Homo sapiens: one gene and its partners. The protein of the gene in region 1 interacts with the protein of each later gene in a pairwise test. Each region holds a gene or a part of one and is shown in the gene's direction. Other genes may lie near its edges.

What was found.
Region 2: the proteins of MYF5 (region 1) and ITGB4 interact in binary tests that used the Homo sapiens proteins (3 or more experiments, as listed by UniProt).
Region 3: the proteins of MYF5 (region 1) and RARG interact in a two-hybrid assay, tested with the Homo sapiens proteins (one large-scale study listed by BioGRID and IntAct).
Region 4: the proteins of MYF5 (region 1) and CHIC2 interact in binary tests that used the Homo sapiens proteins (3 or more experiments, as listed by UniProt).
Region 5: the proteins of MYF5 (region 1) and FIGLA interact in binary tests that used the Homo sapiens proteins (3 or more experiments, as listed by UniProt).

Annotation. Positions count from the first base shown.
Region 1 is NC_000012.12:80,715,436-80,719,711, forward strand, and holds MYF5 (myogenic factor 5), read left to right. Parts: upstream 1-1,476; 5' UTR 1,477-1,628; coding exon 1,629-2,129; intron 2,130-2,922; coding exon 2,923-2,998; intron 2,999-3,425; coding exon 3,426-3,616; 3' UTR 3,617-4,236; downstream 4,237-4,276.
Region 2 is NC_000017.11:75,740,447-75,746,734, forward strand, and holds part of ITGB4 (integrin beta-4 isoform 1 precursor), read left to right. Parts: coding exon 1-15; intron 16-346; coding exon 347-405; intron 406-535; coding exon 536-559; intron 560-1,894; coding exon 1,895-2,043; intron 2,044-2,135; coding exon 2,136-2,315; intron 2,316-3,266; coding exon 3,267-3,415; intron 3,416-6,288. UniProt on the Homo sapiens protein: Integrin alpha-6/beta-4 is a receptor for laminin. Plays a critical structural role in the hemidesmosome of epithelial cells. Is required for the regulation of keratinocyte polarity and motility.
Region 3 is NC_000012.12:53,211,969-53,217,326, reverse strand, and holds part of RARG (retinoic acid receptor gamma), read left to right. Parts: intron 1-1,532; coding exon 1,533-1,681; intron 1,682-1,892; coding exon 1,893-2,034; intron 2,035-2,720; coding exon 2,721-2,881; intron 2,882-3,091; coding exon 3,092-3,268; intron 3,269-3,626; coding exon 3,627-3,831; intron 3,832-4,083; coding exon 4,084-4,242; intron 4,243-5,358.
Region 4 is NC_000004.12:54,008,134-54,014,238, reverse strand, and holds the end of CHIC2 (cysteine-rich hydrophobic domain-containing protein 2), read left to right. Parts: intron 1-119; coding exon 120-176; intron 177-342; coding exon 343-402; intron 403-4,093; coding exon 4,094-4,144; 3' UTR 4,145-4,450; downstream 4,451-6,105.
Region 5 is NC_000002.12:70,775,567-70,782,188, reverse strand, and holds the end of FIGLA (factor in the germline alpha), read left to right. Parts: intron 1-4,517; coding exon 4,518-4,552; intron 4,553-4,806; coding exon 4,807-4,822; 3' UTR 4,823-4,879; downstream 4,880-6,622. UniProt on the Homo sapiens protein: Germline specific transcription factor implicated in postnatal oocyte-specific gene expression.

The DNA of each region.
Region 1 (4,276 bases):
GAAAGAAATAATAATAATAATAGGAAGGAAAACTCCCTCCTCCTCGCAATAACTTCGGAGCCACTATATTTATTGAACTGGGTTACCCTAGATTGAGTTGAGAACACTCCTGCTTCTTTCAACGGGGCCACAAGACCTAGTCCAAAACCCCAAGACTAATTGTGTAGACCTTAAGTAATTGCTTTTCCTAAATATAAACAGCACCTCCCCAACCCAAATAACCTGAAAGTGGATTAAGGTTGGAGGAGGATTGGTAAAAGCTGATTAATAGATTCATTCCCACTTAAATGACAACCCTCCCCTCTTGCCTTCTATCCATCGAAGTTCTAAAGACCCTGCTGTGATTGCTTTTCTGGAAGGCTTTTGTCACTGAAGTGTGTGAAGTTACTCCTGGTTTGAGGAGTTGGAAATTTTACACGAGTCAAGGATTGCAGTGGCGGCAGCTGGGACGCATCTGTAACGGTGTTAGTTTGCCTGAAAGCAGAAAATTAGCAACCCCAAAGCCCAGCTTGGCTGTTTAGTCTGTAGAAATGACAGGGCGGAGCAGAAAGAGAGGGAGAAAGGAGACTCACCCCTGGAAAGGGAGTTTGCCGTCGAAAACTGGGCTTCTTCTGTTGGAAATCTTAGAGACACTTTCAGTGCAGGTCTTTGGCCTGCTCAGGATCTAGGGAAGGCCTGGCACAAAGGAGAAGGTGCTCAACAAATACGTACAGAAGGGGAAAATGAAGGAAGCAAGAACGGGAGGAATGTTCCTGGTCACCTGGCCCTCCTGTGCCCCACCTCCTTTTAGATGAGCAGACATACAGGGAGAACTCAGAGCAAGCCCAGTCATGGGAAAAGGAACCTCCCTCCCTACTCTCAATAAGGTAGAGCCTAGAATAAATGACAATCTGAGCAAAACTTTACTCATCTGAAGCTATACAAAATAGATTTGGAAAGGCAAACCCTGTATTCACTCCAAGATTGAAAATGCCACTTCAAGTTTTTAGTAACCGTTATTCAATCCAATTGCTGGAAAAAGTTTTCGAGATAATTGAAGTTCATGAAAAAGAGAAACAAACACCCCCAAATCAGGTGATTCCTCACGCCCAGGATTGGGAGGGCAGGTCGGCTCTTGGTGCCAGCTGAAAGGGATTTCTATTTATTACCACTATTTTAAAATGTGTGTCCAATTGCAAAAAGTTGGACTGCCTTGGTCACTTTTGTGTGAAACACTCCTTAAGTGATCCCTTGTTTTAGCCTATCTAGAGAGTGCAAATGAGCAGGTTGGGGACCCACTGCCGCCCCAGCAGAAATACAGTAAAACCATTAGCGTCAAAAGGGGCAGTACACAGCAGATTGTCTGTAGAGGAAAGGCGGAGGTTTGTCCAGACAGCCCCCGCGGGGGTTGCGGTGGGATATGCTAATAGTGCCTGGCCACTGGGGCCGGCCTCCCTCCCGAAAGAATATATAAAGAACCCCAACCCCAGCTTGTCTACCCAGGCCAACAGGCGTCTGCCCTTGTTAATTACCGGAGCGACAGACTAGGGAGCTCCGCCCGGGATTTGCCCATCGGCGGAGGCGCCAGGCTCCCGTTTCTCCCCATCCCTCTCGCTGCCGTCCAGGTGCACCGCCTGCCTCTCAGCAGGATGGACGTGATGGATGGCTGCCAGTTCTCACCTTCTGAGTACTTCTACGACGGCTCCTGCATACCGTCCCCCGAGGGTGAATTTGGGGACGAGTTTGTGCCGCGAGTGGCTGCCTTCGGAGCGCACAAAGCAGAGCTGCAGGGCTCAGATGAGGACGAGCACGTGCGAGCGCCTACCGGCCACCACCAGGCTGGTCACTGCCTCATGTGGGCCTGCAAAGCCTGCAAGAGGAAGTCCACCACCATGGATCGGCGGAAGGCAGCCACTATGCGCGAGCGGAGGCGCCTGAAGAAGGTCAACCAGGCTTTCGAAACCCTCAAGAGGTGTACCACGACCAACCCCAACCAGAGGCTGCCCAAGGTGGAGATCCTCAGGAATGCCATCCGCTACATCGAGAGCCTGCAGGAGTTGCTGAGAGAGCAGGTGGAGAACTACTATAGCCTGCCGGGACAGAGCTGCTCGGAGCCCACCAGCCCCACCTCCAACTGCTCTGATGGCATGGTAAGCAATAGATCTGGTACCTGCTAGGCTACCCTAATCTTTTCTAAAGTCCTTACACCTCATTTAACCTGGTGTGGTGGGGAGAGTGGGGTGGAGGCAGATGCTGAGTTGCTTTAAAAGAAGAGAGGGGTCCACATTTAGAAAGACTCCCCAAACCGCTGCTGAACAAGATTTTAGTTTAACTTTCTAGCAGGTTCTAGGTGTACACTGTAATCGAGTGTTGACATGGAAGATGGGTGGCTGTGAATGATCACTCAGATGTTTTCTCCATTCCTGAATTTATTTTCAAAATATGCCATCTGTGGATCATGCCCTACGCTAATATCTAAAGGCACCGTTTCTAACTTAATGAGGAAATGGAAAGAAATACCCACACGGCCCCAGTTCCTGCTCCAATGAGGCCTGGCTGAAAGATGTTGATGCATTCTTTTTAGAGGGCGTTTGCTCCAAGGCTGCCAGGTTTTAATGTGTTTTTGCCCTGGGAAAGTGTTCTTTCCCTGAATTAGTGTGGCTTTCTTCTACTCCAATCCATTTTGCATGGTTAACCCAATGCACATTGCTGCTGAATTCCACCCCCTCTTCCCTTTGCTGCTGCTCTCCTCTTCTTCAAGCACAGAGATTGACCTCAGTGCCCTGGGAATTTGGAGAGGGCTAGCCCTTCCTAAATCAAGGCAGTGAAGGTGATTGACAGTGTTCGGTTACAGAGCTGGTGGGCAAGCACAGCCTCACCTTTGGTCAGAACATCTTTTGCCAAGACCTGAAAACAAACTTTGTTGTGTGTCTTGTATTATAGCCCGAATGTAACAGTCCTGTCTGGTCCAGAAAGAGCAGTACTTTTGACAGCATCTACTGTCCTGATGTATCAAATGGTAAGAATTGATAACTTCACAGGAGTTTAAAGACCAGTTCAACCTAACAATTCAGCCTATAAGATTCTGTTCTTGCTGATAGTATTGGGGAAGGGAGAATGGAAGTGATGGTTCTTATAGGGAGGCTTTGGTAAAGCAAAATAAACACATCTTCTGCTCCAAATCCCCCTAGCAGACACGCACGCACACATGCATACACACATGCACACACAATGTTGCTTGAAATATTATCAGGGGGCTTCCCCACTCCCCACGTCTACCCCTCAGGAATTGCCAGATATTTGTTGCAAATTTCTATGTTAGGCTTTCTGTGACCACCTGACCTCTGGGTGTCAGAGGAGCTGACCTACAATTTAAGGAGCAACATAAGCAAATCTGTCTATCTTGGGCTAATTATTTTTTAATGCTTTTCTCCTTGTATCCTTAGTATATGCCACAGATAAAAACTCCTTATCCAGCTTGGATTGCTTATCCAACATAGTGGACCGGATCACCTCCTCAGAGCAACCTGGGTTGCCTCTCCAGGATCTGGCTTCTCTCTCTCCAGTTGCCAGCACCGATTCACAGCCTGCAACTCCAGGGGCTTCTAGTTCCAGGCTTATCTATCATGTGCTATGAACTAATTTTCTGGTCTATATGACTTCTTCCAGGAGGGCCTAATACACAGGAAGAAGAAGGCTTCAAAAAGTCCCAAACCAAGACAACATGTACATAAAGATTTCTTTTCAGTTGTAAATTTGTAAAGATTACCTTGCCACTTTATAAGAAAGTGTATTTAACTAAAAAGTCATCATTGCAAATAATACTTTCTTCTTCTTTATTATTCTTTGCTTAGATATTAATACATAGTTCCAGTAATACTATTTCTGATAGGGGGCCATTGATTGAGGGTAGCTTGTTGCAATGCTTAACTTATATATACATATATATATATTATAAATATTGCTCATCAAAATGTCTCTGGTGTTTAGAGCTTTATTTTTTTCTTTAAAACATTAAAACAGCTGAGAATCAGTTAAATGGAATTTTAAATATATTTAACTATTTCTTTTCTCTTTAATCCTTTAGTTATATTGTATTAAATAAAAATATAATACTGCCTAATGTATATATTTTGATCTTTTCTTGTAAGAAATGTATCTTTTAAATGTAAGCACAAAATAGTACTTTGTGGATCATTTCAAGATATAAGAAATTTTGGAAATTCCACCATAAATAAAATTTTTTACTACAAGAAATATTTTGGCTCATGATCTTTTAAAATAACACCCCAATGGA
Region 2 (6,288 bases), on another chromosome or scaffold:
GAGGTGGAGGAGAACGTAAGGACCCAGGAACTAGGCCTGGCCGGAGATGTGGGTATGAGGGCGGGTGAGGTGGGCAGGGCAGAGCGAATGCGGTCGTGGTACCGAGATTCATTAACTAGGGGAGAGGGGTCTCTCTGGACCTGTGCCTGGCAGGGGGCATCCTGGGATCTGTTTCCAGAGGGCAGAAGGCCAGAGCCTGGGCCCAGGATGCTGCCCCACGGGGCATGCCCCAGCCAACCCTGAGGATCTCTGGGTACAGAGGCTGCCTGGCTCCCTGGGTCCCCAGCCTGAGGGCTTGCCACGGGGTGGCCTAGGCCCAGCCTCACGCCCCTCCCTTGCCTGGCAGCTGAACGAGGTCTACAGGCAGATCTCCGGTGTACACAAGCTCCAGCAGACCAAGTTCCGGTGAGTCCCGGGGTGCCCGGGTTGGGTGGGGGAGCCGCTCCTACCGGGACTCCAGGAGCCGAAGCCCCCAGGCCGATCAGGCCTCCACTTCAGGGCTATCTAGCTCACAGCGCCCTCTTTGTCCCCACAGGCAGCAGCCCAATGCCGGGAAAAAGTGAGTAGAAGACTCGTGGGTGAGAGGGCCCCCACTTCCTGCCCGCCTGTCCCCAGCCCAGCCACTGCCTCGTCCGTCCCTACTCCATCTCCATCCCATAGGAAGGGAGGGTCAGATGTGTCCGTCAGGTTCGGACCTTCATTCGTTCCTTTGACCATTTCTTCAACAAATGCTAATGTGAAGTGCTTGCTATGAAGTGGCCCCTGGACTAGAGCAGGCAAAAGCAAATCAACCCAGTCCCTGCCCTCATATAGGTGACTGTCCAGCCCCCCACCCGGTACCAGCGATAGCAGGTACCCATCTCCATCCGCTCCAGTGTCCAAGACCCTGATCTTGGGTGCACCTCTGGGGACCAGGCAGGTTACCGAGAGGATGGGCCAGCAGGTCACACACCTTTTTTCCCAGGTCCTACATCGAGTCCTGGCCCTTCATGGGGAGAGAGAGGGAGTGAGGAGGGGGTCTTGATGCAGGGACAGAAGAGCTAGAATCTCAGCACATGACCATCAGTAAGAACCGTTGGCTGTGCGTGGTGGCTCACACCTGTAATCCCAGCACTTTGGGAGGCTGAGGCGGGTGGATCACCTCAGGTCAGGAGTTTAAGACTAGCCAGGCCAACATGGTGAAACCCCACCTCTACTAAAAATACAAAAATTAGCCAGGTGTGTTGGTGGGCACCTGTAATCCCAGCTACTTGGGAGGCTGAGGCAGGAGAATCCCTTGAACCTGGGAGGCAGAGGTTGCAGTGAGCCGAGATTGCGCCACTGCACTCCAGCCTGGGCGACTGAGTGAGAATCCGTCTTGAAAAAAAAAAAAAAGAATGGCTGACCAGCATTTCTTATCCTGCTACGGGCCAAGCATTGTCCTAAGGGCTTTCCGTGTGTGGTCATCTTATCCAACCCTCTCGTCAAGCCTGTGAGGTAGAGATCACTGCTGTTCCCATTTTGCAGATGAGGAAGCTGAGGCTCAAAAGGGTTAAGTGACTTGCCCAAGGTTACCCAGCTATCGAGAACTAGAACCAGGGCTAGGGCCGCGGCAGCCTGGCCTGAGCACACACACCCTTAGCATCTTTGCTGTCCAGCCCTTGATGAGGTGGGCAGAGAAGCCCATTTCACAGAGGAGGACGCTGAGGACAGGGAGGCGCCATGGCTGGGCTGAGGCTGCAGGGTAAAGGGTATGGGGCTGGCATAGGCCTGGAGCACTGCCTGCCTCTGAAGACCCTGCACTTCTTGCTGTCTTACATCCTGGCCCCTGAAGGGGAGAAGACAGGCAGGAGGGACAGGGCAGCAGGTGCCAGCCTGACCCCTCCGCTGCCTGAACCTTCCACCCTCGACCCAGGCAAGACCACACCATTGTGGACACAGTGCTGATGGCGCCCCGCTCGGCCAAGCCGGCCCTGCTGAAGCTTACAGAGAAGCAGGTGGAACAGAGGGCCTTCCACGACCTCAAGGTGGCCCCCGGCTACTACACCCTCACTGCAGACCAGGGTAGGAGGGCGGGTCCGCTGTGCCACTGCCTCGCACCTCCCGCCTGTGTGGCCCTGTGACCCACCTCTGACCACCTCCGAACCCCCACCCAGACGCCCGGGGCATGGTGGAGTTCCAGGAGGGCGTGGAGCTGGTGGACGTACGGGTGCCCCTCTTTATCCGGCCTGAGGATGACGACGAGAAGCAGCTGCTGGTGGAGGCCATCGACGTGCCCGCAGGCACTGCCACCCTCGGCCGCCGCCTGGTAAACATCACCATCATCAAGGAGCAAGGTGGGTCTGGGTGGGGAGAGTGGGGAAGGCAGACGGGGGCTCGGGGGCACTGGTTCCTCCTGCTTAAGTGGAATTGCGACCTGGCCACGTGGCCTGGGCTAGTCACTTAACCTCTGCAAGCCTTGGTTTCTCCATCTGTAAAATGGGTAAGGGCTCTTTTACGGAATGCGTGGCTGTTCACCTCGCCACAGTGCCTGCCTGGTGGTGAGCGCTCAGTAAATGGAAGCTTCTGTTGCATCCTCATAAGGGCCAGCCCCTTGCTCCTCTCTATCTAGAAAAAGGGTTGGCCAAGGCATCACACCGTGGACATCTGACCCCTCCTCCCACCTGTGCCGGAAGCCACAGGCCTCAGGCCTGTTCCTGCTCTCCTCCAGCCCTGGGGCTGAAGGCTCCATCTCTGGTCCTGCCCGTGACTGGCCTCCCTCCTCTGCCTGGCCCTTCCAGGATGTCTGCTGGACACTTTGTTCCAGAACCACTTTTTTTTTTCTTGGGACAGAGTCTTGCTCTGCCACCCAGGCTGGAGTGCAATGGCACCATCTTGGCTCACTGCAACCGCTGCCTCCCAGGTTGAAGTGATTCTCCTGCCTCAGCCTCCCGAGTAGCTGGGATTACAGGCACTCGCCACCACGCCCAGCTAATTTTTCTATCTTTAGTAGAGATGGGGTTTCGCCATGTTGGCCAGGCTGGTCTCGAACTCCTGACCTCAGGTGATCCACCTGCCTCAGCCTCCCAAAGTGCTGGGATTACAGGCACAAGCCACTGCGCCCGGCCCCTCATCTTTTTCTGGAAGGATTTTCCGTTTCGCTCCTGTGCCCTTCCCAGAGGGCAATGCATAGAGGGAACCAAGCGGACTCCTGGATTCTGGGCTGGGCTGGGCAGGGTCACAGGAGAGCAGGAGGTGGGAAGGGACTGGGCCCAGCACACTCTGACAAATGCCCGGGCTCCTTGCAGCCAGAGACGTGGTGTCCTTTGAGCAGCCTGAGTTCTCGGTCAGCCGCGGGGACCAGGTGGCCCGCATCCCTGTCATCCGGCGTGTCCTGGACGGCGGGAAGTCCCAGGTCTCCTACCGCACACAGGATGGCACCGCGCAGGGCAACCGGGTGAGGCTGCGCCACAGGGTCGAGGGTGCAGCCCGGGGGGCTGCGTGGGCACCGCATTGGGTTCCCAAGACAAAGCAGCACATGGCAGCTGCTTGAGTCCCTGGATACTGGCCGTGCCCCTGGCTGGCCTCCCAAGGACACGTCCACCTGCTCCTGCCACCCTGTGGCAGGGGAGTCTCACCTGCCCAGGGTGCCAGTGACACGCTGGATGAGGCTCCATTGCTGCCAGGGACTCAGGCCAAGAGGGCTCGCTCTTTTTTTTTTTTTTTTTTTTTTGAGACAGAGTTTCGCTCTTGTTGCCCAGGCTGGAGTGCAATGGCACAATCTCAGCTCACCGCAACCTCCACCTCTCGGGTTCAAGCGATTCTGCTGCCTCAGCCTCCCTAGTAGCTGGGATTACAGGCATGTGCCACCACGCATGTCTAATTTTGTGTTTTTAGTAGAGACGGGGTTTCTCCATGTTGGTCAGGCTGGTCTGGAACTCCCGACCTCAGGTGATCCGCCCGCCTTGGCCTCCCAAAGTGCTGGGATTACAGGCGTGAGCCACCGCGCCCGGCCCAAGAGGGCTCTTTCTTCCTTCATGGGCCAGGGACCTGCCCAGACCATTCCTGTCCCCTCCTACAACTCAGGATCCACAGGGTAGCCAAACCTCTTGGAGATAAACTCCCCCTATATGCCCCAGTCCAGGGGGCTTTGGGTTTCTTGAGCTGGGATCGAAGACCCCATGTCCCCAGGCCAGACTCCCCAAGGGCTGTCACAATTTGCCAAGCAGCAGGAGCAACCCTTCAAGGCAGGGAGTGCCATGGCTGGACCAGCATCACCTTCACTGCTGAGCCCCAGTGCTGGGGTACAGCCAAATCAGGTGGCACACAGGCTGGACTGGGTTTACAGGCTTCATAGTTTTGTTTCTTTTGTTTTGTGTGGGGATTTTTTGCTTCTTAATTTTTGGGGGAGACAGGGTCTTGCTATGTTGCCCAAGCTGGTCTTGAACTCCTGACCTCAAGTGATCCACCCACCTCGGCCTCCCAAAGTGCTGGGATTACAGGAGTGAGCTACCACGCCCGGCCTAGTTTTTGTATTTTTAGAAGAGATGGGGTTTTGCCATGTTGGCCAGGCTGGTCTTAAACTCCTGATCTCAAGTGATCCGCCCACCTCGGCTTCCCAAAGTGCAGGGATTACAGGTGTAAGCCAGTGCACCTGGCCTTTCTAGTTTTTAAATGTTGGCAACAAATCCATAATTAAAAACAAAGGCGGGGCATGGTGGCTCACACCTGTAATCCCAGCACTTTGGGAGGCTAAGGTGGGAGAATCACTTAAACCCAGGAGTTCAAGACCAGCCTAGGCAACGTGGTGAGACCATGTCTATACATATAATTTAAACATTAGCTGGGCATGGTAGTGCATACTTGTGGACCCAGCTACTTGGAAGGCTGAGGCAGGAAGATCACTTGAGGCCAGGAGGTTGAGGCTACAGTGAGCCATGTTCATGCCACTGTACTTCAGCCTAGGCAACAGAGTAAGACCCTGTCTAAAAAAATAATAATAATTAATTTTTTAAAAATCAAACAAAAAAACAAAGAAACAAAACCTGGCTCAGTGCAGTAGCTCATGCATGTAATCCCAACACTGTGGGAGGGCACAGTGGGAGGATCACTTGAGCCCAGGAGTTGCAGGCCAGCTTGGGCAACATAGTAAGACCCTGTCTCTATTTTAAAAAAATAATAATAATAATAAAGGCCAGGCGAGGTGGCGTATGCCTGTAATCCTAGCACTGTGGGAGGCCAAGGCAGGTGGATCGCCTGAGGTCACGAGTTCGAGACCAGCCTGGCCAACATGGTGAAACCCTGTCTCTACTAAAAATACAAAAATTAGCTGGGCATGGTGACACGTGCCTCTAATCCCAGCTACCCGGGAGGCCGAGGCAGGAGAATTGCTGGAAACCAGGAGGTGGAGGCTGCAGTGAACCGAGATCATGCCACTGCACTACAGCTTGAGCGACAGAGTGAGACTCTGTCTCGAAAAAAGAAAAAAAAAATTATCTCAAAAGTAATAAAGTCTCGCCTCCCTGGGCCCACAGGCCCATTCAGCAAACATAGGGGAGCGCGTAGTCAGCAGGCCCGGGCTGCCTGGCCACATCCTAATTTTATTTACTTCTTTTTATTGACAGGAACTGTTCTCATTATTTTTCCAATGTCCCCCCATAAAAATTCCAAAGAATAATTTTTTTCTTTTAAGAGACAAGGTCTCCCTCTAGTCCAGGGTGGAGTACAGGGGCACAGTCCTAGCTCTCTGCAATCTTGAACTCCTGGGCTCAAGCAGTCCTTCAACCTCAACCTCCCAAGTAGCTGGGACTACAGATGTCCACCACCGCACGGCTAATTTTGTATTTTTTTTTCTTTGAGACGGAGTCTCACTCTGTTGCCCAGGCTGGCGCGATCTCAGCTTACTGCAACCTCCACCTCCAGGGTTCAAGCGATTCTCCTGCCTCAGCCTCCCAAGTAACAGGGACTACAGGTGCGCACCACCACACCCAGCTAAATTTTGTATTTTTAGTAGAGACGGGGTTTCACCATGTTGGTCAGGCTGGTCTCGAACTCCTGACCTCGTGATCCGCCCACCTCAGCCTCCCAAAGTGCTGGGATTACAGGCATCAGCCACCGCGCCCGGCCATTTTATATTTTTAGTAGAGATAGGGTTTCGCCATGTTGCCCAGGCTGGTCTCAAACTCCTAGGATAACATGATCCTTTTGCCTTGCCTTCTGGCTACCCTGTTACACTTGTATAAAGATGCTTTGAGGCTGGGTACAGTGGCTCATGCCTGTAATCCCAGCACTTTGGGAGGCCAGGGCGGGCAGATCGCTTGAGATCAGGAG
Region 3 (5,358 bases), about 28 Mb from region 1:
GAGGTTGGGAAAGGCGTTCCAGCCCTCCTCACATCTCTCAGCACCAGCCCCTCCTGGAGCCCCCATCCCTAGTCTTGAATAGACTCCAGGCACCCTTCTTTCCCCCCTCTCCTCTCTCCTTTTTCTTTGGGTAATCTCACTCTGGCAGGATTCTTATGCTAATTGATTGTATGTGTGTTGGGGGTGGGTAGGGCTTCCCTCCTGTGGGGTGGGTGGAGCTAGCGTGGAACCCTGGCATCCTGGGCATTCCTTCCGCCCTTCTGGCTGCGTTGGGGCGGGCTTCTGACCAGGTGGGCTGCAGAGGGTTAGAAGGGAGAAGGTGTTCATGAGGTGGGTGCGTGGGACACACCTTAGGGAGGGTCTTAGGAATTTTTTTGCATTAACTTGGGCCCTCCAGGTTTGGGCAACAGGTCCTACAGGTTGAATAATTTACAAATTTTCCGAGCCTCTGAAGACCAACCACACGCGCGCGCGCGCGCGCGCGCACACACACACACACACACACTTACCCAGCAGCCTTTTGAACAGAGCAGAGCATGTCCTCCCCATACTGTGGGGCTGAGACCCCTTTTGAGCTGCAATTGGGTATTTTCAGAGTGAAGACATAAGCTCAGAGAGGGTCCAGAAACAGGTTCCCTCCCCCATCAGTCCTGTTTACCTACTGTCACCTGACTTCTCCAGTTTGCTACACCTCCAACGGCTTCCAGACCTGAGAAACTGAGCAAACACCTCAGCCTCTGCTTCCCCAGCTTCTCTGACTCACAGCCACTTGGATCTGCTGGTGGTGTGGCACTGAGCTGGTCACTTCCCCTCTCGTGGCCTCAGTTTCTTCAGGCGTGAACCAAGGCTGTGGTGCATCCTCTCACTCACTCCCCTGAGACCTTTGCCCCATTTGCTCCACTGTCTCTGATGGTTATTCAGGGGTAGTGTGAGAGAGATAAGCCTGAGGAGTTATCCCCCCTGTACTACTGGAAAGGAAATGAGGTCCTGGTTTACCTGCTAAGCATCCCAGCAGGTCATTTGGCCAGTAGCAGCTACAGGAAGCCTGTCATTGCCTACCTGCCCCCAGAGTTATTGCCCCACAGGGAGGACAGTGGGAAGTAGACTACCTGACAAAGATATACCAAAGAGACAGAGAGTGACTAGAGAGCTCAGAGCTGCAGGGCTTTAACTCTTCTACCCACCTCCTGGATAGTTAGGGAAACAGGCCCAGAGAAGTCAATTTCCGGAATGGCCTTGGTCTGGAATTTGGAGGATTAAACATGTCATATAGGATGAGGGCTGGCATTCTTGTGAACAAGTTGGTTAGACTGTGGAGGGTAGAGGGTGAACTAGGGTCACAACAAGCTGTGGTAATAGTGGTCATTAAGAGGATTCTGACAGTGCTTACTGCTGGAACTAGTGCACTGTGGTAGTGATGGCTGTCACCAGTGGGCCAAGGAACAAATGCACATGGGGTGTGTGTGATGAGGAAGCCTGGAGGTCTGTGGGGTCCTTCTCCCCTGACCCTCACATCACTGCTTCCCTCCCAGCGGTGGAGACACAGAGCACCAGCTCAGAGGAGATGGTGCCCAGCTCGCCCTCGCCCCCTCCGCCTCCTCGGGTCTACAAGCCATGCTTCGTGTGCAATGACAAGTCCTCTGGCTACCACTATGGGGTCAGCTCTTGTGAAGGCTGCAAGGTGTGTACGTGGTGGGAGTGGGCAGACGGGGGATCCAGTTACCCTAGTAAGATGAGAGACCAGGCACACAGATGCTGTGTCTGAGCAGCACTGCTTTGCACATAGGTGGTTAATAGATTAGGTCAGGCTTGGGGCAACCTGCAAGGCCAGTGAGAGGCTGGTACTCCCAGCATTGTGCTTCAGAGGCCCTCTCTCTTTCCCTCAACTCCAGGGCTTCTTTCGCCGAAGCATCCAGAAGAACATGGTGTACACGTGTCACCGCGACAAAAACTGTATCATCAACAAGGTGACCAGGAATCGCTGCCAGTACTGCCGGCTACAGAAGTGCTTCGAAGTGGGCATGTCCAAGGAAGGTAGGCTGCCATCCTTGGCTTGGGCAGGAGCACTTCGGTCCTACCCTATGGCTGTGGCCCTCTTTCCTCTGGCCACTCCCACTTCCCTGACCTCTGAGACTTGGCCTGCCCTGGGGTGCTGCCTTCTCCCAGGCCAGTCTTATTTGATTAGCTCCATTCAACCAGGAGGCCCCACCATTTCCCATTCTCCCTCTCAGGGAGCTTGACTCTTCCTCTGAATGGGTGAATAAGTAGGGTCTCACATTCCCCCTGTTTCATGGGGGAAATGAAGCCAGTGGGCTTGCCAGTCCCTTTCCCTCCCCTGGACTGAGCCAGAGATGGATATGGGGTGGCTCCTCCTCTCCACCCCCCCCTCGCCCCCATTGTGCTGCCAAGGCTATAAGTGGATATCCTGCCGCCTGCATATCCTGCCCCCCCTCCCCCAGCTCCTGCAGGGTGACAGGAAGGACAGGATGGAGCCGAATGGCCTGGGGAAGGAGCAGGGGCTGCAGGCCCTGGGTGGGGCTGGGGAGAACCAGCCTGGGAATAGGAGCTATTATAGGTGATAGGGAAACTGAGGCAGTAATTACAGTGCCAGAGAATAGATATTCATGATAAGGACTGAGCATATTAAATTAGGGTGAGAGAGGACACCCAAAGGGAGGCTCTGAGGGTCCTGACCCTCTCCTTGCGCCTCCACCCACAAGCTGTGCGAAATGACCGGAACAAGAAGAAGAAAGAGGTGAAGGAAGAAGGGTCACCTGACAGCTATGAGCTGAGCCCTCAGTTAGAAGAGCTCATCACCAAGGTCAGCAAAGCCCATCAGGAGACTTTCCCCTCGCTCTGCCAGCTGGGCAAGTATACCACGGTGAGGAATGGGCAGAGCCCAGTGAGGGCAGGGCACTCTTCACTTTGGGGAATGGGGCTGGGTTGTGTTGGAGGCTATCATCGACTGGTGCTGAGGACAAGGAGGGCATCAGAATGCAGAGGAGAGAGCTTGGGATATTGGTAGAGAGAAGACAGCCCCCAGAGGTGGGCCTTAGCTTGCCTTCCAACCTTCTACCCCTCCCCTCTGCAGAACTCCAGTGCAGACCACCGCGTGCAGCTGGATCTGGGGCTGTGGGACAAGTTCAGTGAGCTGGCTACCAAGTGCATCATCAAGATCGTGGAGTTTGCCAAGCGGTTGCCTGGCTTTACAGGGCTCAGCATTGCTGACCAGATCACTCTGCTCAAAGCTGCCTGCCTAGATATCCTGGTAAGTTAGGCCCTGTGGGTCCTGCCACAGCCCGACCCACATATGGGACCCTCAACAATTCCTTGATCCATGCAAAGATTTCCTTACCCTGCACCCCCTGCCACACATGTGGGACTCCTCAGCTCTCTTTTCGTCTTAGCCTCTGCCCCTATGACCTGATCCTAGACTTTTGGATGCCCTGTCTCCTCCTGACTTCCCGGGACTACCCCTGCCAAGCCTCAGATCCTCCACCTCTGCCTTCTCCATGCCTGCTTCAGGTTGCACTCACTGGGGACCTAACCTCCTCACTTTCCACTCATTCCCTCTTTTCCCCATCCCCCAGAAACAGCACTAACCCTCCTCCACCCCCCACCTCCAGATGCTGCGTATCTGCACAAGGTACACCCCAGAGCAGGACACCATGACCTTCTCCGACGGGCTGACCCTGAACCGGACCCAGATGCACAATGCCGGCTTCGGGCCCCTCACAGACCTTGTCTTTGCCTTTGCTGGGCAGCTCCTGCCCCTGGAGATGGATGACACCGAGACAGGGCTGCTCAGCGCCATCTGCCTCATCTGCGGAGGTGCGGGGGCGCCCCCTGGCGTCTGCTCAGTGCTCAGTCTCCTTTCCCACCACTCCATGCGGAATCTGTCTGGGAGGGGGCGTGGAGGACCCAGTGGTCTCTTCTGCTGGTAATTCTTGCACCTGGCCCCATCCAGAGAGTTCTGAAACCCTGTACAGGCTTCCCAAAACGCCGGTTGGTGATCAGCCATCTGTCACTGTGTCTTCCCCATCTCTTCCTTCCCCTCTCACTCCAGTATACTTGTCCCCATAGACCGCATGGACCTGGAGGAGCCCGAAAAAGTGGACAAGCTGCAGGAGCCACTGCTGGAAGCCCTGAGGCTGTACGCCCGGCGCCGGCGGCCCAGCCAGCCCTACATGTTCCCAAGGATGCTAATGAAAATCACCGACCTCCGGGGCATCAGCACTAAGGGTGAGTCATGAGTGGGTGTCCCCTCTCTGTCTTCCCAGGGCTGTTGGTCTCCCAGGTCGGACAGGAGGACACACAGAGACAAGAACAGAGTAGTTGAGAACCAGGCAATCTACACTGGAATCCTAGCTCTGCCACATAGTAGTGGGAGACTTTGGGCAAATTGCTTCTAAACCAGTACTGTCCAGTAGAACTTTCTGCAATGATGGGAATACAATAGTCATTAGCCACATGTGGCTATTAAGCATCTGAAATGTGACTACTGCAACTGCAGAATTGAATTTTTAATTCAGCACAATTCCAAGTATGTGTGTGTGTGTGTGTGTGTGTGTGTGTGTGTGTGTGTGTGTATATATATATTTAGAGACAAAGTCTTGGGCAAATTGCTTTACTTTTTTAATCTTGTTTGTAAACTGGGCTATTCTTCACGTACCTTGTAACGCTGTCTTGAGGACTAAATTAGTTAATATACAATGTAAAGCCAGGCACCATGGTGCACATCTGTAGTTCCAGCTACTCAGGAGGCTGAGGCAGAAAGATCAGTTGAGGCCAGAAGTTGGAAGCTGCAGTGAGCTATGATTGTACCTGTGAATAGCCACTGCAGTCCAGCCTGGGTAACCCAGCAAGACCCTGCCTCTAAAACAACAACAACAACAACAACACAACAAAAAAAACCTGTAACATATACAGTGTACTTAGAATTGTGCTGAATTAAAAATTCCATTCTGCAGTTGCAGTAGTCACATTTCAGATTGCCACATGTGGCCAATGACTACTGTATTCCTATCATTGCAAAGTTCTATTGGACAGTCCAGGCTTAGAAGGATGTCTGGAACATAGTGTTTGATAAATATTAGCTGTGGTAATAAATGTTATTAAGAGAACAGGACTAGGAACAAGTGACAAGCTCTGGACATTCGAGAGTGGGGTACTTGGGGAGTGGGGTTGGAAGTTGTGTGCATTGCGCTCGCTGAAGAGACAGCCTGAAAGAATGGGATGAATGGGCAGCAAGCCTGGTAGAGAAGGCCAGGTAGAGGTTCCAGGCAGAGGAGTGGCACCCAGGAAGCCTAGTGAGAAGAGGATGAGCTGGGGACGGAGAGGTGGTGGGCCTGTGCTGGG
Region 4 (6,105 bases), on another chromosome or scaffold:
ACACCACACTATACTCAGTCACTGTCTTATACCTCTCCCCTTTTCACAGAAAAAGCAGCTGCAAAACAAAGTTTTCTAAAACCAGTCAAGAGTAAACTTTTTTCTCATTTGTCTTCCAGACACGAAGATCGATTGAGAAGTTATTAGAATGGGAAAACAATAGGTTATACCACAAGGTGAGTACCACAGGGAGCAGCTTCGTACTGTTGGGGTCTGAATTGCACAGTATGGAAACAGATGCTTTTGTTGAACTAAAAATATGAAAGGTGGACAAATGGGTTAGTCTGTGTGCTGCAATAAAATAGAGCTCATTTTTCTTCTTTTACTTTCCTACTTGTCTAGCTGTGCTTGCATTGGAGACTGAGCAAAAGGAAATGTGAAACGAATAACATGATGGAATATGTAAGTTAAAGGGCTGTTTTGTGAGTTTCTCTATTAAATGATCATTTATTTTGCTTCTGATCTTATTCTTTCCATGATTATTAATCAGCAAAGGTGTCAGGAGCTTAATCTCCTGAGTGCAAGGATTTTCTACGGTTCACAGATGCATGGTTTCATGTGCAAGACTGATTTATAAAGTTATGAATGACTTGAAAACAAGGCTTCACTGTGTTCTGAAAAATAATAAATTAATTGCCAAGATAAAATAGCCTGAACATGTGTTGATGGAGTGTGAAATTTTAGATGCTGTATAAAGAATAACCACAACTTTGGTTACGCAGCAAGTCAGATATGGCTTTTTTATATAATGCTAATCAAGTTTCCAAGTATGGAAGAAAACCTTTCAGCCAAGCCATTGGAGCTTAAGAAACCTTTACCCTTTATAGATTTTAACTGCCCGTACCTCAGTGCCCTTTAAAGAATCTCTTTTAAAGTGTTATTAGAATACTGCTTTGTAAAAATTAAAAGTAAGCAGGAGATGAGATGTTGATCATCTTGTGTTTACTTGTTAAAAAATATCTAATTTGGCATATATATACAATGAATTTTAGAACTTACTCAGCATGGGATTTAATTTACTGACTCCATGATTTACTTGAACAGTTTTTCTCCTTTTGAAAATTTCAGAATACTCTAGAAAATTAAGAATTTTAATTCTCTTTTGAGCTTGGATATTTTATTTTAAATATGGCCAGGTTATTACTTTAAAAGAAAAGATCTAAGGAAAAGTTAATAGTTGAAAATAAAACTCAGAGCCTTTGTGAAGTACCTGTTACAACATTTCTGAGGAATTTTGTCTATTCTTTAAAACAATATAGCCATCATAGATGTGTGCGTGTGTATGTGTAAAATATTGATTAAAACAGTGTTTAGTTGTAAATTATCATAAAATCATTTTTGTCTGTTAGCATTTTCCTGTTCTTTCATTATCCCACAGTCAAATCCTATTTCTAGCCTTGAACATAAAAAATATTTTTAAAATGTCTTAGACTAGCTTTATTCAATGAACCAAATAATGTAGATTTTATCTTTACTACATCAAACATGTTAATGTATGATGATGAGAAAGACACTTGATACTTCTTTATAATCATAACACATTTGAGTAACTCATTTTGAGGTGAGGAGACTACTCTTGTATTTTCATCTTAGATAGAGGGTTTATGTATATATTTTGGGGAGAGGGATGGATAGGAGATGTAAAGAATTTAGTGAAAAAAATATTTACTACATTTATAACACAAACACTAAGCTTAAAACTGAGGTATTAATTTTTTCATGCATTTCTAAATTTACTTTGGAAAGGAAAACATAAAAGTTATCCCAATGCTATGAATTCCAGATAGAACTATATGACTATAATTTATTCATAAAATAATTTATAACCTTCCAAAACATTCTGAACTATATGCTTTGTTTGTCAAATAAGTTTCCTTGAATTTTTAGATAATTAAGCACTTCTGCTAAAGCCATTATATTATTTTCACTCCATCATAGAAGATACCCAGAAGAGTAGTAAAGATAAAATAAATATTTCAATTGCCAGGAAAAAGCTGGGTGTAGTGGGCATGCCAGTAGTCTAGCTGGGGAGGCTGAGGCAGCAGGATCACTTGCGTCTAGGAGTACAAAGACAGTTTGGGTAACATAGCAATACCCACCTCTCTTTAAAAAAAATAATAATAAGCTGGGGAGAAAAAATGTGTTCTGCTGGATTTTCTTAGAGTATATATATATATTTGTGATAGTTGAAAGTGAGAATAATGTAGCTTAAAAAATTTATAAAAATGAATTTTAAAAGTTAAACTAGCAAATAAAATTCATTTTATCTAATGAATTTGGGCCTTTTTAACCATGTGTCCCTCTTTTCTTCAACTTTTCTTTAACTTACAGGAATTTAATTTTGTTAAAAGAAAATAATTATCCTTGATTATAATTTGAACATTGGAGATACTAAAAAATATATATATATATATTCCACCTTGGCACTAACTTTTCTTTGTTCAGATATGGTAGAGATGGATGATTTAGAATAAATGAGACAAGTGGCCAGTCTCTATGTGTGGCTTCTGAAGGAAAAATTTGTAGAATATATTATTTAAAAACTAATAGTTCAAATGTAGGCAAAGATAGCCTTTATTTTATGTTATGTATTAAAAGTGTATATTATAAAGTGTGGGGATGCCCATACCTGGGGACTAAAATTATAAAGACTGATTGAGGACATACTTGAAATACAAAATTATTTATTTAATGTTGACTCCTAAGTAGTTTAAACATTTAATTGTCAAATTTTAAAGCTGCAAAGAATCTTGTTATCTAGTTCAATGCTTTTATTTTATAGATAAGAAACCTGAGAAACAGGAAAATCTAGCTCAAATGAAGAAGCTAGTTGGGAGAAAGTATTTTAACAGGGAGCTAGTGAATATTTTGTAGGCAAATCACAGGTCAGGAGAGTGGCAAATGTGACAGCTAAGCCTTAGTGCAGGATACCTAGAGTAGGACAGGAATATTTTTGAGCCAGGTATAGAAGTGTATCTTCTTTATTGAGGCAGATCAAAAGCCAGGAGAACTGAAGAGTGAAAATGAAGATTCCTGGCCCAGACAGCTAATTTGTAGAAGTATTGAAATCTGGAGGTCATATCAAGCAAGACACAGTTTCTGAAAAAGAATGATGAGTTCACTAGACTTAGAAACTTTTAAAATCAAATAATTTTTAAATCACCATCTATTTAATACAAATTTGGAGCAAAAGAAAGAGTTGACTGTAATTTAAGAAAATTCAAATTTGGAAAAATTAGCTCTGGTCACTTTGTGTAATTCTGTGTTACCATATTTTGTTTTTGTTGGTTTTCCTTTAGTTTCCTATTAAAAGGCCTTTTGGAACAAATTTTAGCCTTTAATTTTGCTAACCTAAGAAGAAATGGACTTTTTAAAAAATTAAGAGATAAAGGACCTTTTATCTAAAGATTACATATTCTGGTAGAGTAAAATGAGAGCAACTCTAGAACTTAGAGAAGACTCATGTAGTTGGGTTGATTAAAAAGGAGAAAGTCTAAAGAAAAATGTTGGGTGAGCTGCAGTCACGTAGGGTGGTATAAAGGGCAAGGCTTTGGAGTTAAGACAGTCTTTTATTCAAACAGTGACTCCACATTCAATTGTGATACAACTTCTCTGGATCATCAGTTTCCTCATCTGTGAAATAAGGATTATAATACTTGCCTCATAGAAAAGTTGTTGGGTTTAAAGAGACCCAATGTAGTATGGAACACCTGGTATACAGTTAGTTCTAAGTAAATACTAGCCTCTTTTCTCATGAGTGCAGGGGAGCGTGCATGTATGCATGTTTGCTCCTCCAGTGTATCAGGGGCACTATCTATATCACCCTTCTCAGACTTTGGTGATTTTACTTGCTTATTTGTCTTCCTTTTCATAGAGCCAAGGTATTTCGTGTATTTGGTAAAGGTCCAGAAATAAAAAGAAAAATTCTCAGTGATGGAACTCTGCATTATCAGATAAAGATCTGTTTTAGTAATGCAAAGTTGCGTTTTAAAATGTGAATGGATTTTCAAAAAAATTGTGAAAGCATATAATTGAAGTTTTAAGAAAAAATTTTGTTTAAATCTTTTAAAACCTTTTTCTTCTCCTTTTACAGGTCATCCTCATAGAATTTTTACCAAAGACACCGATTTTTCGACCAGATTAGCATTTACTTTATTTATAGAGACTTTCCAAGTATGTTGTCTTTCCAATGGTGCCTTGCTTGGTGCTCTCCTGGTGGTGACATAACATTGGTTCTACAGAATCGTGTGGTGTTTTTTTTGTTTTTGTTTTTGTTTTTTTTTTAAATAACCGCATGTTCTAAGTGTGCATTTTTGTCAATCTTTGCAACAGTTATTTCATACAGATGTTTAATACTTAAGTTATTGTGCTCTTTTCTGTTATGTATTCTGATTTTCAAGGATTACTTTTTTGTATTATCAAAAAAATACATTTGAACTTAGCATAAAAAGTGGCCAGCCTTTTTTATTTTGTCACCAAGGTACACACAGTCCTTTATTTATAAATTCCTTAACAGAGAAAAACACCTTTGTAAGGCTCAACTTACCTATTCCAGCAAGCACACTTTTTCTGTCATTTTTTCTTTCTTTTCAAATTTGATATTGTCATTATTTTAAAATAGTAAGTTTTCTTTAATAGTCTTTTGGGACCTAACATACCCTTTCTCATACAATTCCTAATGCTCTGTTTATGGCAGATAATCTGTAATGTTATGAAGACCTATCAAAAAGTTTTAAAAGTATTTCTGTCTTCAAAGGTAGTAAGACAGGATTAAATTTTTATTAGAATAGACAAATCAGTGAATGGTATGCATGTATCTAGTGGTTACTAGAACTCAGGATCACACAATATAGTAGCATCACGATCTGTGTATATTTTTGATCAAGATGATAATAATGGCCTTACTTGGGTTTTTATCGTTTATCAAATCTTACATACAAAAGAGTGGAAGTATTCCTTTACAAAATTTCTAAGGAAAATATTTCTTCCAATCTATCACAATTATAGAATGGATATATGTTTCTGAAAAGTTTTTGAAAGAAAGCAAAAGTTCTAGAACTAAAAGTAAGCTGGTATTTAATATCCCGTTGATATTTAGAAAAGATTGTTAATAAGAAATGGAGGATGCATTTAGTACTATTTTTATCCACTAGTTCACTTTCAGTACAGTTATGTATACTTGTTTTGATTGAGAGTGTGACATACATGTTAAATCAGATTAGCTTGTTTCTTTTAAATATACATATACACAAATACATATAATTTTTTCTCCTTTTTGTTGTGCATATCTCTATGCATTTTTAAACTTTTAGATTTGTGAATGACCTATGTGTAAATTTTTGTTTTTATAAACCAGAAATTATACAAGTTTTAATGTGTGTCAAGAACTTGTTCCATACAACTGTGGTATCGAGCAATAATGTTAATAACTTTTGGAATTATATAAACTATGCTTAATAATTTGTATTGAGAATTGGTACCACTATACAATACTTTTTTCCTGTATTAAATCTTTTAAATACCAGTTTCATTAATTTATATACCTGTATTTTTAAAAGTATTTCTTTGTACTTGCCAAAGTACTGTAATCCTATATAAATTTGAATAGTCAAATGCCAGTATCTCATGTCCTATATCCTGTCTTGGATATTAGGAGCTATCTTAAAAACTAGGATTTAAGATTTTTTTTTGCTTGAGAATTATATGTTTTCCTTGCCCCCCAAGTAACAACTTGAATTTGTAGAACACTTTTCCTGTGAAGAGTTCAAAGTACAAAGAACTCAAATACTTATTTTATTTAACTTGTATCTAGGGTGTGTCCTACCACCTTAAAGTAGTGCAATTAAAAATAATGCCATCTAGAAACTTCAGTATTCCTCTGTGGTTTCAGTGTGAAAAATAATTGTATCTTCATACAACGCTAAATCTGCCTCAGGATTCAGAAAGATCAGAAAAATATAATGACTGTGTAAACTATGCAACACAGTGTTCCCTGTATAAAATTGTATAAATCCATAGAGCACCATATTGATAAGCTTTATGAGAAGAACTTATCTATTTACATAATTTATTCTCCTGTTATTAGTCTACTGTGGATAATAATTT
Region 5 (6,622 bases), on another chromosome or scaffold:
CTTTCACTTTAATCTTTTTCTTTTGTAATTAATATGTATTTTGTGAGGAGGTGCTTTGAAACTATGTAAAGATCTCATTACTCATCAAACATTCTATATTTATTTATCAAATCTGTAATTTGGAAGTAATTATAGATTCACAGGAAGTTGCAAAAATAGTACAGAAAAGTGCTGTGCATCCGTAGCCCAGTTTTCCGCAATGGTTGCATCTTCCATAACTATAGTATAATATCAAAACTGGGAAACTGACATTGGTACCACGTATGCATAGTTGTATGTTGTTTTATCACACGTGTAGATTCATGGAATCACCATTGCAATCCAGATGCAGAACTGTTCCATCACCACAAAGATCTTCACGCTGCCCCTTTATGGTCACACCTACACTCTGCTCCCAACCCTCCATTCTTCCAAACTCCTGGACATCACTAATCTGTTCTCCACCTCTATAATTTATCTTGAGAATGCTATAAAAATGGGACCATACATTATGTGACTTTTACAGATGGTCTTTTTCCACTCAGATGATGCCCTTGAGATCATCCACATTGTATAAATGGTCTGTTCCTCTGCTTTTTGCTGAGTAGTCATCTGTGGTGTGGATGTACCACAGTTTAACTGTTCACGTAAATATTTTAGAACATTTTGGTTGTTTTTATACAGACATTTTTATATTAGTATGAGCTCATGGTTTTCTGTTTAATTCAGTGGATTATTATATACTATCATTTTTTATTATTTTATTGCTCCAATTGTCCCCACTGTGGCCAGCGAAAGCTCCTTAAGCTGGCAGCCTTTCTGTTTGATATGTCATCACGATTATTTGATCATTTCCTTTTTGGCAGAAGGTGTTCCAAGCTCATCTTGTACTTTTCTATCCCAGCCCTGGAATCAGCCACTTATCTGAGGATGCCCCTGTGTATAACCCATCTCCCATCTCTGTTGCCATCCCCTCACCACATGGCTGTTCTCCTCACCCACTTGAACTTTAACACTCATGGCAAGCTGTACCTCCGCAAAAACCTCCTTCTTGGCTCTGACGTTCCACGCCGGTCCCCTCATATGTGGATTCCTCCTCTCCCTGCTCTCGCTAAATCACCTGCACACACAAGTGCCTGGCCTACTCAGCTCAGGTTTCTCTACTCCATGCTGAACTGCCCCTTTCCATGGACTTCTTACCCAGCTTGGGCTCTGAGTCCCCAGGCCAGGCCTCCACTCCTTTCATGGGGCTGCCGTTCTCATCCTGATTGGGCTGTACCATGTTTGCACTGGACCACACCCCCCATGTGAATATGCCCCTCATCTGCTGGATCTCTGATATCCTGCGCTGGGCTGCCTCTGTATGTGGGTGCCATCTCACCCTGCTTGGGCTCTGATACCACTTCACTTGGGTCACTGTGGCTTCTCACTACCTAACTGTGACCCAACTGATGACATTAGTACTGAATTGTTTAGGAGGGAGAAGAACTCGCATTTTCTTTGAAGTACCTACTGTGCAGCCGTCTTTCTGGCTAGTTTTCTCTTTGTTAACATTTATCTCTGAGATCTTTAATTATATGTGAGTTGAGCGATTATTCAATATCACCTTTATTAACTGTATAAAAAGCTTGCATTTTACAATCAGGAACCAGGGTGGGCTCAAGATAAAAAGGGTCCAAGGAAGTGATGCTCAGGCTGACCTTTATTTGACAAAAGGATCCTCGTAAAGATTCAGCCCAGCTTTCCTGAAGCGGTGACTCCATAAGGTTTCAGGATCCTGTCCAGACTAGAGACCTAGTGACAGATAATGTGACTCATTGGACAGAAATGCTCATATCCAGAGGAGCTTAAGATTTGGGAGGCAGGCCCTCTCCAGCTTCAGTTTGCAGGAGTGGCACCCTTTTCCCTACCCTTGATGAGGACCCAGGGAATGAAATCCTGGTAGTGGCAGGGATGGGCGTTTTGGGGGATTTGGAGATGGGGTCAGAGCAGGCTGTGCAAGATCAACAACATTCCTGGGAGGCAAAGTCCCAAATGAAGTGCATGAGAATCTGCTGATGACAGGGATGGAGATTAACGTCTGGGGCCAGAGCCCCAGAAGTTCACTCGGGGAATGAATTGGCAAGTATTCGTGCAGACAGAGAGGGCCGTGAGCCATGAGAAGCCACAGCATGTGGTGTTGGTAGGGAGAAAAATTAATTTCAAGGTCCAGGAGAGGCCTGTTTAAAATTAGAGCTTCAAAGTGTAGGTTTTTGCCATATTGGGGTTGGCATTGCTAGATGGCAGGCTGTTCGCTGTCTTGCCATTGTATATTCCTTCTATTTGCCACTCGTGGTTATGGTTCTGGCATTTCATATTATGCATGGCTCTAAATTTTGTTCAGAGTTGCCAGTGACACTGTAGAGACCATGTCTCTAGACAAAGACCACCCTCAATTTTGGAGTGAGATGCCAAGAGTGCTGGGGCTTGAGGGCCTTTGGAAAGGGACATATGGAGAGACATAGTATCTGTTACAGGGGCCTTGGTATGCTGCCAGTATATATTTCCAAACTCTGGCATGTCATGGGAATGTTCCTTGAAAGAGTTTCTGAGAGAAAGAATCCTGTGTGGATGGTAGACTCCTACCACCCCTGTTCCAAGTTGCGGTAATCTGTGAAATTACTCACTGGGGACATTTCTTCCTATAGCATTTTAAGCTCTGAAATGAGACGGTTTGGCTAGTTGGGATGAATTCATTAGCACCTTGGGAAAGACCTGAAGCCTCTTTCTTCTGTCTTCCACCTCACATTCCCCCAGGTAGTGGCTCTATACGATGGTAAAACTTCTACCACAGTAAGTGATGGGTCTCGCTTTGCTTGAGAAGCACAGTCATCTGCCCTGGGGTTCACCAATAGCCCATGGGGCATATTCTGATGAGATTAGTCAGCCCAGCATTTTCCAAAGTTGTTTCCCATTTAATGGGGTGGGTGCCTTCTGGTTTGTCCCAGTCCTCCCCACTCCTTCCTGCACCAGAGTAGCATATTTCACCTGGTAAGGTGTTGGGATTTTCTGCCCTGGTCTAAAGGCACAGTGGCTCAGAGGAAAAGCTGCTCCGGCGACTGCATTTATAGCCCTGGGATTTTACTGTGCTCTCTATACTTTGGGGATTTAGGGGCTGGTGCTGTGATGGTGCCTATGCTTGTGGTTCTCTGGGATTTTGGAAAGAGCCTTGCTTTTCAGATTATCATAGGAACAGGGACTGAACTCTAAAGCTGAGTGAGCAAGGATTTCTGTTTACCCCATCTCCCTCACCAAGCCTGGCTCAGTGGGTGGAGGAATGTACATTGGATAATACGTCAAATTCTGCAGCCACACTGCCAACAATTGGAGTGTGCCTGCCTTCTTAAAGATATTAAGCAGCAAACTGGGTTTCTATTCTCCAGACTACCCTCTTCTTGGACCTTAAACTCTTTGGCTTAGATGAGACCAACAGCCAATTTTTAATGAGCTGTGACAATAAAGACAACATTTATAAACTTTGGCAAGTTTTTCTATTCTCATACTTAAATATTACGTTTCTGAAATTTTCCAGCTAATTCTTAAAAACAAACTAAAATAAATGTTCTAAAATGCAGTAGACTATAGGCAGAATATTGTCATCCTTTAATCCTTCAGGTAAATTTATATGAATTTGTCTCAAGTATAAAAAATTCTAAATATGAAAAAAATTAAAATTTATTTTAAAAATAAAGCTTCCAAAGCTAGGTCTGAACTATAAAAAGAAAGAAATGTTGATCACTTGTATAGTGGAAAGACTCGATCAAGATTAGAAAAAAAAAGCTACTCATACATATTTTGTGTCAGAGACTGCTCCTGGCAGTGTATACATATTAACCTATTTAATTTTCACAACCACCCTGTGCTATACAAACAATTATATCCATTTTACATGTGAGGAAACTAAGGAACAGAAGTAACTTGCCCAATACCTGCAAGTCAGTGAAGTGTTGGGGTTGGGGGGGATGTGGGTGATAGTGTTAAGTCCTTTTTAACCACTTTCGTTCTAACAAAACTCAACTTTGAAATGTAAAGGAGGGTGGACTAGAAAATAGATAAATGTTTAAGGCTAAGTTAAAGCATTTGATTGCGGTGCTTTACCATCCACAGTGATGTACATAATAGGTTTCAGTATCCAAAATGCCTGACCATGACTTGAGCGGCTTTATTTTTCAGTCATGGGTTTATTTTTTCTTCAAGTTGAGAGTTTCAGAAAATTGAGCAGAGACAAAATGATCTTGCCACGTTAGTAAAACCACTGATGGAAATACACTAAAATCCTTCCCATTTCTTTTCCTTTGCAACTAAAATAAAAAATTATCATCAGGTACATAACATTGTGTGCCTGTTCTTGATTTTTCTATCACTGGCATGTTTATGTGACCCATTAGGTGGGACAATTTTTTTACTGTTGGCCACTATGTTCTCAGTTTTTTGTTCTCTTAAACGTGACAAATAACCGATGTGTTTAGCCCTTTCTGTATTTTGTATTGTTTTTGCAGGATAGATTCCCAGAAGTAGAACTGCTGAGTCACAGGTAGGTCATTCTATAACCTGATGCATAGTGCCAATTTATAACACCACTGGCTGTATAATAAGAGTGCTAATTCCATCACATTCTTAGCAATGAGCTCTATTAAAAGAAGGAATCTTAATGGGTAAAAAAGTAGTATCTTTAAATTTAAACATCTTTGATTACTAATAAAATTAATTTTTTGCATATTTCTTTATTTCTTTTGTAAACGGTTCTTATTTTTAACTATTTATAATGGAATGTTTTCTCTGTTTCAGACTTCCACAAGTATGAAAAATGAAAAGGCCCAGGGTTACCTTCTAGAGACAAATAAATGCAGTCTTGAAAGTTTTGGAGTCTCTCTTTTTTTTTTTTTTTTGAGATAGAGTTTCACTCTTATCACCCAGGCTGGAGTGGCACGGTGTGATCTCGGCTCACTGCAACCTCCGCCTCCTGGGTTCAAGTGATTCTCCTGCCTCAGCCTCCTGAGTAGCTGGGATTACAGGCATGCGCCACCACGCCCAGCTAATTTTTGTATTTTTAGTAGAGACAGGGCTTCTCCACGTTGGTCAGGCTGGTCTCGAACTCCCGACCTCAGGTGATTCAACCACCTCAGCCTCCCAAAGTGCTGGGATTACAGGAATGAGCCACTGTGCCCCGTGGGAGTCTCTTTTTTAAAAAAGAAGTTTTGTAGTAATTCCGAGTTTAACAATTACCCTTTTAAATAGCCTTGCCTCTCTCAAGTTTACTCCACTCTGCCTTCTCCTTAACTTCATGCTTTGAAGAAATAGGCTTCAGGGGCTTCATCCTTTGCTTCCAACTCACTGTCATCCTCTGGGGACCTACATCTTTTTTTCATTGCTTTGAGAAATAAGTGACTGTTACCCTTCCAATAGAAATTAACCTTAATAGAAATGAAGACTTAAGCTAAAAGAGTTGTAAACATTGGCCAAGGGGAGTGAGAGTTTTCAAGGGTTTCTAGATACCCAGCTAAGGCCAAATGGCACCTTTTGTGCAAGGTAGACAGCCAAACACCTTGAGCACAAAGACTTCGTCTTTATAACCATTGCTCACAAAGACATAGTACTTATTATATGCTGGATTCTGTTCTCTATGCTTTCCATGTGTTAACTTGTTCTTACAACAAGCGTAAGATAATGGCATAAGTATCCCCATTTCACAGATGGGAAAACCAAGGTACAGAAAGTATAATTAGCTTAGCCTGCCTTAACAAATACCATAGACTGGGTGGCTTAACAACGGAGATTTATTTCTTATAGTTCTAGAGGCTGGAAAGTCCAAGATTATGGTCTGGCATTGTTCAGTTTCTGATGAGGGCTTTCTTCCTGGCTTGCAGATGACTGCCTTGTCACTGTGTCCTCATATGGCAGAGAGATAGCTAGCTTTGGTTTCCCTTCTTCTTATAAGGGCACCAATCCTATTGGATTAGGGCTCCATCCTGATGACTTCATGTAATCTTAATATCTCCTAGAGACCCTGTCTCCAAATACAGCCTTATTGGGGGTTAGGCTCTCAATATATGAATTTTGGGTGAACATATGCTGTTCATAGCATTCTGTCCCTAGCCCTTCCCCCAAATTCATTTTATCACATGCAAAATATATGCATTCCACCCCAGCAGCCCCCAGAATCTAAACTCATTCTCACTTTAAAGTACAAAGTCTCATTTAAATATCTTCTAAATCAGGTATGGGTGAGACTTGAGCTATGATTCCTATCTTTCTCCAGCTGTGAACCTCTGAAACCAGACAAGTTATGTGCGTCCCAAGCACAATGGTGAGACAGGTGTAGGATTGACATTCCTATTCCAAAAAGGAAAAATAGGAAACAAAGTGTTAATGGGTCCCAAGCAAGTCCAAAACCTATTGAGGCAAATTCCATTATATCTTAAGCCTCAAGAATAAATCCTCTTTGCTTTGATGCAGTGTCATCCTTGTGGCTTGGCAGGGTGACCTTCCCTCGGAAACTGAGGAGGAACTCAGCTCTTCTCCTGCCTGTGCCCCCTCCTCCAAAACATACACACACACACTGAGTGGCCACCCTGATCTCTGAGTTGCCTTTGGGGTCATTTCT